Linked DNA regions of Homo sapiens: regions 1 and 3 are each linked to region 2. Evidence: fine-mapped expression QTL. A gene starts in region 2. Each other region holds a variant in brackets. All regions are shown on one strand. Distances are between the middles of the regions.

The links. PIP is the estimated chance that this variant, and not a neighbour inherited with it, causes the effect.
Region 1: its variant is fine-mapped to the expression of PPP2R3A in blood mononuclear cells (TOPMed, PIP above 0.99).
Region 3: its variant is fine-mapped to the expression of PPP2R3A in blood mononuclear cells (TOPMed, PIP 0.99).

What each region holds. Positions count from the first base shown.
Region 1 is chr3:135,993,534-135,996,298 of GRCh38, forward strand. All of the region lies in intron 1 of PPP2R3A (protein phosphatase 2 regulatory subunit B''alpha), which reads left to right. Among named protein-coding and RNA genes, the nearest start is that of PPP2R3A, 29 kb to the left of the region's middle. The variant T/C (reference allele first, on the strand shown) is at 1,394.
Region 2 is chr3:135,964,176-135,966,940 of GRCh38, forward strand. PPP2R3A (protein phosphatase 2 regulatory subunit B''alpha) reads left to right here and starts at 1,553. Exons shown (of 14, transcript NM_002718.5): 1 at 1,553-1,674. RefSeq lists an enhancer at 1,127-1,945 and silencers at 1,390-1,619, 1,750-2,029.
Region 3 is chr3:135,887,910-135,890,674 of GRCh38, forward strand. No RefSeq gene overlaps it. Among named protein-coding and RNA genes, the nearest start is that of PPP2R3A, 76 kb to the right of the region's middle. The variant G/T (reference allele first, on the strand shown) is at 1,549.

The sequences.
Region 1 (2,765 bases), 29 kb after region 2:
TGCTAATTACCCAAAAGAAATGAACACATATCCACAAAAAGACTTTTACTTGATTAGTCATAATAGCTTTAAATCATAATAGCACAAACTAGAAATAGCTCAAATGTCCATCAGCTGTATGAATATACCAGAATTTGTTTTATCTATTTGTTGAATAGCATCAGAACATTTGAATAGACAAAACAAATTCTGGTACATTCATACAGTGGAATACTACTCAGCAGTGTAAAGGAATGTACAATTGATAACATACAGTAAAATGGATAAATCTCGAAACTAAGTGCTAAATGAGAGAAGCCAGAGAGAAAAGTACATATGTAATTATGCTAATATGAAGATCTAGAACTGGCGAGACTTACCTACAGTAATAGAAATCAGATCAGTGGTTGTTGGATATTATGGGTAAGGGAAATTGAGAAAGGGCCTAGGGATAATTTTGCGGTGATAAAAATGTTCTGTCTTTTTTAAGGCAGTGGTTACATGGTTCTTGTCAAATCTCACTGGATTACAAACTTAATATGTTTTTTATTGTATGTAAATTATCAGTAAAGTTGATTTCAAAATAAAAGTGAAGCTCTAAAAAGCTGAAGGGAAGCTCTGTGTTTGTGGACAGCGTTTGTCAATTAGTGGGCTTCACTGTAAGATGATCATGTAGCTAGATGAGATTTCTATTTCTCTAGAAAAAGATTCTTTAATCCACAGTGGAGACTAGGAGCTGGAGTTAGTAAGCCTGGTTTTTGGTGACCTGGGCCTCCTTTATTTTCAATCCTTTACCACCGTCTTTGTCTGATGCCCCTGATGTTGGTGCTTTTCTGTTTCAGTTTTTTCCTCCCAGCACATCAACTTTCTATCTTCAGCAGGGTGAAAGAGGGATGATTTCTGAGCTTGTGGAGTGGGGGTATGGAGACCTAACTATTCTCTTACAGACTTTCAAACAGTCCCCCTATGTTTAATCCTCTACCCTACTCCATTTTCTGTGGTACCTGCTACCAACAAACCTTGGCTTTCTTTGGGTTGTGCAGGGTATGAACTGGTTTGCTTGTCATCAGTAAGCTGTCATTTACCATTCCTACTTCTCTTTTCTGTCTTCATCTGGAGTTACAGGTGTCTCCTAGGTTTTTGAAGATGGAGTTTGCATTCCTGTTTCTCATTCTTATTATTTGGAGGAGACTTTAAAACTGTGAAACCCATACTGCACATTTTCAGCGTTACCAATACCAGACTCCTTATACCTCTCTAAACACACCAGCCTTTTTCTGTCTCTGTGCCTTCATAGAATTCCTTTTTGCTTACAAGGCGCAGTCCAACCTGTTTTTACCTGATAAGGCTCTTATCTTTCAAAAATCCAGTTCCTCTCCATCCTAACTTATCTGCTGCTTCTAAACCTTTGTTT[T/C]ACAGCAGATCTTCTTCATTAGGAACTGCCATATAGCAGTTTATTGTGGAGCTTTCCAGAGGCACTGGAAAGTATGTGTTAGAGTAATCGTAATCTGCTTAAAGTGGTGGTAATAGTAAGTGCTTGATAAATATCTGTTGAATGAACTCTAAAGATGCATATGAAACACTCACCCAGAAATTAGGAAAACAGACTCTGGCCCTTTGTGGAGATGAAAGGACCAGCAGAGACCAAAAGCCTGGGGGGGTGGGGCTGGCAGCATGCCACAGACCTGAGGTGCATAAATATACACATTCAGAACAATTATGATTTTGCAAGTAGTCTGTTGTATTAGGGGTATAAAGCAGACTATAACAGATGTTTAGACTGAAAATTTTTCTCATATTTTATCTCATCTAAGATTATAAAACTCATTATTTCATATGCCATTAAGAAAAAACTCTATTGATTATGATAGAGTGCTTATCCTCTAGAACTTTTTTTACTCATTGAAAGAGTTCTATGAGACTTACGTTGACAGATTTTTTTTTTTTTTTTTTTTTTTTTGAGATGAAGTCTGTCTCTGTTGCCCAGACTGGAGTGCAATGGCACGATCTCGGCTCACTGCAGCCTTAGACTCACTGCAGCCTCTGCCTCCCGGGTTCCTTTAATTCTCCTGCCTCAGCCTCCCAAGTTAGCTGGGATTACGGGCACACACCACCATGCCCAGCTAATTTTTGTATTTTTAGTAGAGATGGGGTCTCACCATGTTGGCCAGGTTGATTGTGAACTCCTGACCTCAGGCAGTCTGCCCACCTTGGCCTCCCAAAGTGCTAGGATTATAGGCATGAGCCACCACACCTGGCCTGATGGATATTTTTAACTATATATCACTCTTGTGCATATATAAATAAAATACAGTGGAAATAATTGGCTAAAATATTTCTAGAATTTCATCTATTCGGATTCAGACTCTTTAAAATCACTTTTCAATTTAGAGCCACCGATGTTTATACTTTCTTTCTCTGCCATCCAGAGTGTTTGGTGATGACGCATTTCTTAAAAGAGTGTTCTGCTATGATCTTTGGGAATTTTCTGCCAAGTTATTCTGCATGTTTTTTTACAATGGTGTTTTCTTGACCTTACTAGAGTGCGTTCAATAAATGACAACCATGTCACAGTTCTGCCTGACCAATAGGGATTTTAAGATGCTACCAACTATAAGATGTATTTCCATTTAAGTGATGTTAAAATGTCCAAAAAAAAATGTATTTTAGAATTGAAAAATACTGTAGCTCAATAATTAATGTGATTCTGGCCTCAGAAACTTTCTCTTTGTTCCTGTTATTTAAAGGCTGCTGCTTTGTAAAAATGTATTTATAACCAAACTTTT
Region 2 (2,765 bases):
AAAAGGGCCAAAGGAGCCCTAATGTAAAAACATTGGCAATAAAACTGTTGAGACAAACCAAGAATCCAGGTTGCCAGGGTCAGCAGTTTTAACATTGTTTTATGGTACATTGTGTACTTTTCCTTCTTACTGATATGCATTGCACTGTGACCTTTGCAGAGTCCTATCCTGCCCTGCATTTTTCACAGAGTTGCTCTCAGTCTCAAATAAGATACCATATGCATGTGAAAGGGCTTTTGAAATGGAAAAGCAGTAGAAAGTTGAAAGTAAAATGGTCTCTTTCTCTCTAGGGCATCAAGGCATCTCACAGAGCACACTTTAGCTACTGGGAGGATTGACCTTGGGTGAAATTTCAGTATGTAAAGCTTGTTTGGGGTTATCTTACATAATTTTTTCTTTCCTTGTGCTATACACACACACACACATATATGTGCATATATGTACAATGCACATATATACACACACACATATGGCACCTAGTATATGCTTGGTGCTATGCTAGGTGCTGGGGAGACAGTGAGAACAACCCAGGTGCCCAGGACCTGTCCTCACAGCCCACCTAATCCTTTTAAGTCTTTACATACCTCCCATCCCCCACCCCCATGCTCCTTACTCATGGTATTCAACCCAACTGATTGACTTATTTATTGTTATTTATATGCTTATATATTTATAGATTTATCATTTTATCAAGATTTTTACGAAGATACTCAATTGGAGGTTCCTAATTCTGGAGAAATTTCCATTTTACAAATATATTCTTGGAGAGGGCATGATTATGGACCTGTCACATTTGAGTACTGTGGCAGTTAGAAGGAGGGCAATTTTGGGAGGCCCTTCCAGGCTATGTCCTTCCAGCTATTAATGAGGTTCTGTTTCAGAGCAGACCATATTACACGGTGTTATTAATAAATCTGGCGAGTGGTTATAAGGGTGTGTGTATCGGAATAATCCATTAAGCTGTACATTGGTTTTATATGGCTGTCTATATTTGTGTTTTATTTAACAGTAACAGTTAACAATAACAGTTAAAAATAAGTATCACTTCTTTTAAAATTCACACAACTTCTTGGGCTGAGTGAAATGTGGCGCAGGTGCAGGACTGTGGGAAGACAGGAGCGCCAGGGAATGTCTGGCCAGCAGCGCGCTGCCCTCAAGGGGCCTCCTTGAAGGCCCCTTGAAGAGGGCAACACAACTAATGACGATAACAATAACAACGATGACAATATTGACGATGACAATAACAGTAATAAATCCGAGCAAGAGACTCGAATCTGTCAAACAGCAGCGACCACCACGAATCGCATCCCCGCGGCGCCGCCATACAGGAGACTGCCCTCGCCGAGGCCACAGCGGCTCTCGCGGCGCCCCTGGAGGCCCCCTTCCTGCCTTGGCCAGAGGGGCGGGGCGTAGGCTGGGGGCGGGGCCGGAGAGTGGGCGGGGCCTGGCGCGTGGGCGGGGCTCCGGGCGGGCCGGCCGCCGAGGGTGGGGCCGAGGAGGAGGAGGAGGAGGAGGAGAAGGAGGTAGGGGCCTGCGGGTGGCTGGGCGGGGCGCGCTCGGGCCTCCGCTCTTCACGCGCCGCATTCGTAGCCCGAGAGTCCGCGCCGCGGGGAGGCTTGGAGGCAAGCGCTGCCCGCGAGCTGAGCCGCCGGAGGAGGAGCCGCGGGCAACGAGGTAGGCAAAGGAACACTGGCCGCACGGCCTGGAGCCTTCAGCTCCCTCGTCCCGGCCCGAGGGGGTGGCGAGGCTCGGGGCGGCGCGCGGAGGCCGGGGCGGGCGGGGCCGGGACCTGGGGGCGGGGACCGGCCTGGCCAGAGGGGCCACACGGAGCTGATTGGGCTGTGGAAGTCGGAATTCCAGTCGGTGCGGTGCGGTGCGGTGCGTTGCCTCGGCGCGGCCGGCCGGTCCCGGGACACGGCACCAGGGAGGTGTGGAAATTGCCTGCCCCAGGGGCGCCCGCGGAGGAGGGTAGGCGGGGGCGGCCTGGGCCCTCCCACTTTTCAGGGCTCCTGGGCCAGTTCGCCCGCACAGCCCTCGGGAACTTGTTAACAGGAAAGCCTGGCAGAGAAACAAATGCCAGCGTTTTGGAAGAACTGAGAGTCACGTCGTTAGGCGCTGAGGCTTTCTTTTCCTTCCCCGCCCCCTGCCCAACCTCGGCCCGACTTGGCCAAAGAAGGATGTGTCACCAGCTCCGGGCCGCGGACGGGATTCCCGGCCCGCCAGGAGCCGGGGTACCTGAAACAAAGGTAAACGGAGGCCGGGCGGCCCCTGGTCCTGCACCGCGGCCGCGCTGGAGCGCCTCGGTGGGTCTCTCCCGCGCCGACCTGGCCGCCGCCGCCGCGGAGGGGCGTTCTCCTGGGGGACCTCTCGATGGAAACCAGCTGGCCGGGCTTGGAGTTGATGTTGCATCCGAACTCTGTTGTGCTCCCGTTATTCCCAGTCCTCCCACTCTGGTAAAGCTTAAGGAAATTTTATCCAGTCTTGGTGGTCAGCAAATGTAGGGGAAGACAAATTATTGTTTGTAAATTATAAGGTATTTTCTAATTAGGAAATGGCCTGAAAACATTAAATTCTTAACACGTAAGCAAAAAAAGAGTAATTCCTTCCAACATCTGAGGAAGTATTCCTCCTCAAATCTTCATTTATGTACAAAACATCCCCCACACCTTTGGTGCCAGGCATTTTTCTTTGTTCTTCCTTAGTCTCAGGCCTTAGTTTCTTGTAAACAGAACCCAGCGCCTAGACCCTAAGAATTGCCATACTAG
Region 3 (2,765 bases), 76 kb before region 2:
AGATCATTTCCATCATCACAGAAAGTTCTTCTCTATGTAATCTAGCACTTAAGCCTATGACACAAACAATAATTACAATACAGAGAAAGGAAGAGTCTAAAGTGAACAGAAATTGCTCTAAATAGCTTCTGAAGGAACTAATATTCAAGTTGAATTTCCGGGAATGAGATGGAAGCCTGGGAAGGAGAATTTCATTCAGAGTCCGTAAGAGAAACAAAAGTGATAATAAGGAGAAGAAAATGGGCCCAGGCCTGGATGGAGCCTGGTACATGTTCATGATGAACATATATTACAGGGATGGAAGGATGAGTGAATGGTAGGAAATGAGATAAGTAGGCAAGGTATAGGGAGATTGCACAGGAATTTCAATGTCTGGCACAGTAATGTAGGCATGACAACAATAGCTAGTAACACTGGCTATCACTTATTTAATGCTTATTGTGTTTCAAGTTTTGTAACAAGAGATTTATACAAATTATTAAATACAAATTATTACATTTACTCCTCACAGCACCAGGAGGTTAAGTATTTTTAACTCTATGATAAGAATGACAAAAACTGATTTTTGGAGAATTTAGATATAACATGCCCAGGGTCATGCAGTGAGGAAATGGTAGGCTGTGATTCAAACGAATACCATTGTCACCAATGCCTTCACCTTATACTTTCATTCTCCCTGCTCATCCTCCAAAAATCTTTCTTTTTAATTGGGAAGGGCTTTGCCTCCACTCTTTACAGTATAAATCCACAGTTTCCAAGGTGTCTCTTCTGAAAATCCCTTTACCTTTTTCTGATCCTCGAGAAAATACTCTCTTAACAGGGAGTCCTTAGCAGTTTAGAATGTATAGCATTAGCAAGAGCAGGAATATGGCAGGAAGGGCTTGGAAAATGGCAGCGATCGACCCTGCAGTGTGAATAAGAGGTGTGTAGAAAAAGAGGCCCTTGTACTCAAGGATTCACCAACTTTTCAACTGATATCATGCAGAAAGTTACCCCCTGACTTCAGAGCCCTTCTACCAGGTGTGCAAGACAGGGTTCCTGGCCCCATGAACTCCTGTCACCGTTGTGGCTCCTCTCATTGTTTCTTATTCTTCTAAGAAAATTGCTTGCTGTATTCTTCTGTAGGTTTGAGTTTTGGAGTTTATACATATGGACGCTTCCCTCCTTTACAATCCTGACTACAATTTGACCTGGCTGCTCCTGGGCAGACCCGTGACTATAGATTGGAACAAAAGGCTTCCCAGAGGAGAGAGAGACGTTAACATGCTTTTCTATGCCTCTGTGCTTTTTCTATAAAAATAGAATATTAAGTTAACAAAGCATAACAATTCATCTCAAAGTATTATAGATAAAAATTGATTACAGCATTTAGAGCAAGATTTGAAGAAATACATATACCTTGTTACTACCTTTAACAGTAATCATTCACTGTTTAATCTAACTTTGGCACTTGCTCAACACGTAAACTGGAATGTGCCTTGTGTCTTTCCTTTTAGTTAAAATCCTGTGTAGGGTTGATACTTGGCTCTTTTTCTTTGGGGCATTAGA[G/T]ATTTTGGCACCAACAAGTATTCCACACAGATTCTCTCCAGCTTTTTACAGTTTGAGCTGCCTTCACACAGCTGATCAGTGAGAAGGTGCCCTGCTGCGGTCTTAGCATTCTAATTAACAGTCTTTCTATCTAATCACTCTGCTCTTCTACATGACAGAGACTGACCTTCTACTCCACAGCATTGCCAACAGCCAAGAAGAGAAAATGATTAGAGCCCAGCCACATAATATCCATGGCATGGAACATACACACTCACACACATACACGTGCTCAGGAAAAGCTTATTATGGAAAACCCCAGGGGGAAGGGAGGACCAATCAACCCCTCCCAGTGTTTACCCCTGCTTCATTTGCTGCAGTCCCCTCACTCTTCTAAGAGAAATGATCATGACCGCCACTATAACTGCTTCAGGCAGCAATTTGCTCTTCATATCTATCTTGGCTTAGATTTTAATAGGTATCTTTTTGATAAGTATCTTCAATATGTATCTAAGACGAAAGTGGAATTTTTTTGAATTTTTGTCTTTAAAAAACTATAGCAAGAATAAAAGAATAGAAAGCACAGGTAAAATCACAAGTGAGGTTACAGGCAGATTTCGCATCTTTAAATTACCAAAGGCTTGACAAAATTATTTGGCCAACACCATTTACTGAAATCACCCAAATTCATCTAAATTCACCTCACCTCTGACTTGTTTAATTTTCCCAAAGTTAATATACCTCTATTTTTCTCGGCACAGTTTGGGCCCAGATTTGCTAGTGACCTGTATGACCTGTATGGCTGGTGCCATCAGTCCCAAATTCTCTCTGTCTCATACAAATGAAATATCTTTCTACTAGAAGTTTATGTGCTTACCAGTGATCATAAATGAAGTATAGTTCCTTATTTCCTGCCCACAAGAGCTAGGTAGGTTTCTTAATGTCTTAATGTAAGTTGATGACACGTTTGCCCTAACTCATAGATTGTGCAAGAATGAACTGCCATTGAGTTTGATTGCTTATAGATGGATTTTGATGAAGTTAATTTGAAGATATTGAAGGCTGCTTACTGTGCTTAATAAAAATCTTTATTCTTTTAGTTTACAAAAAGTTAGATGTTATTGAGCCAATTAGATCCTGTGTGTGGTCTGTGGAGGTGCCTGCAGTCTTCAGTTCATTGACGGAACAAAGTGATAGACACACCCAAGGCCCAGTGAACTGACAAATCCTCCCTTGGT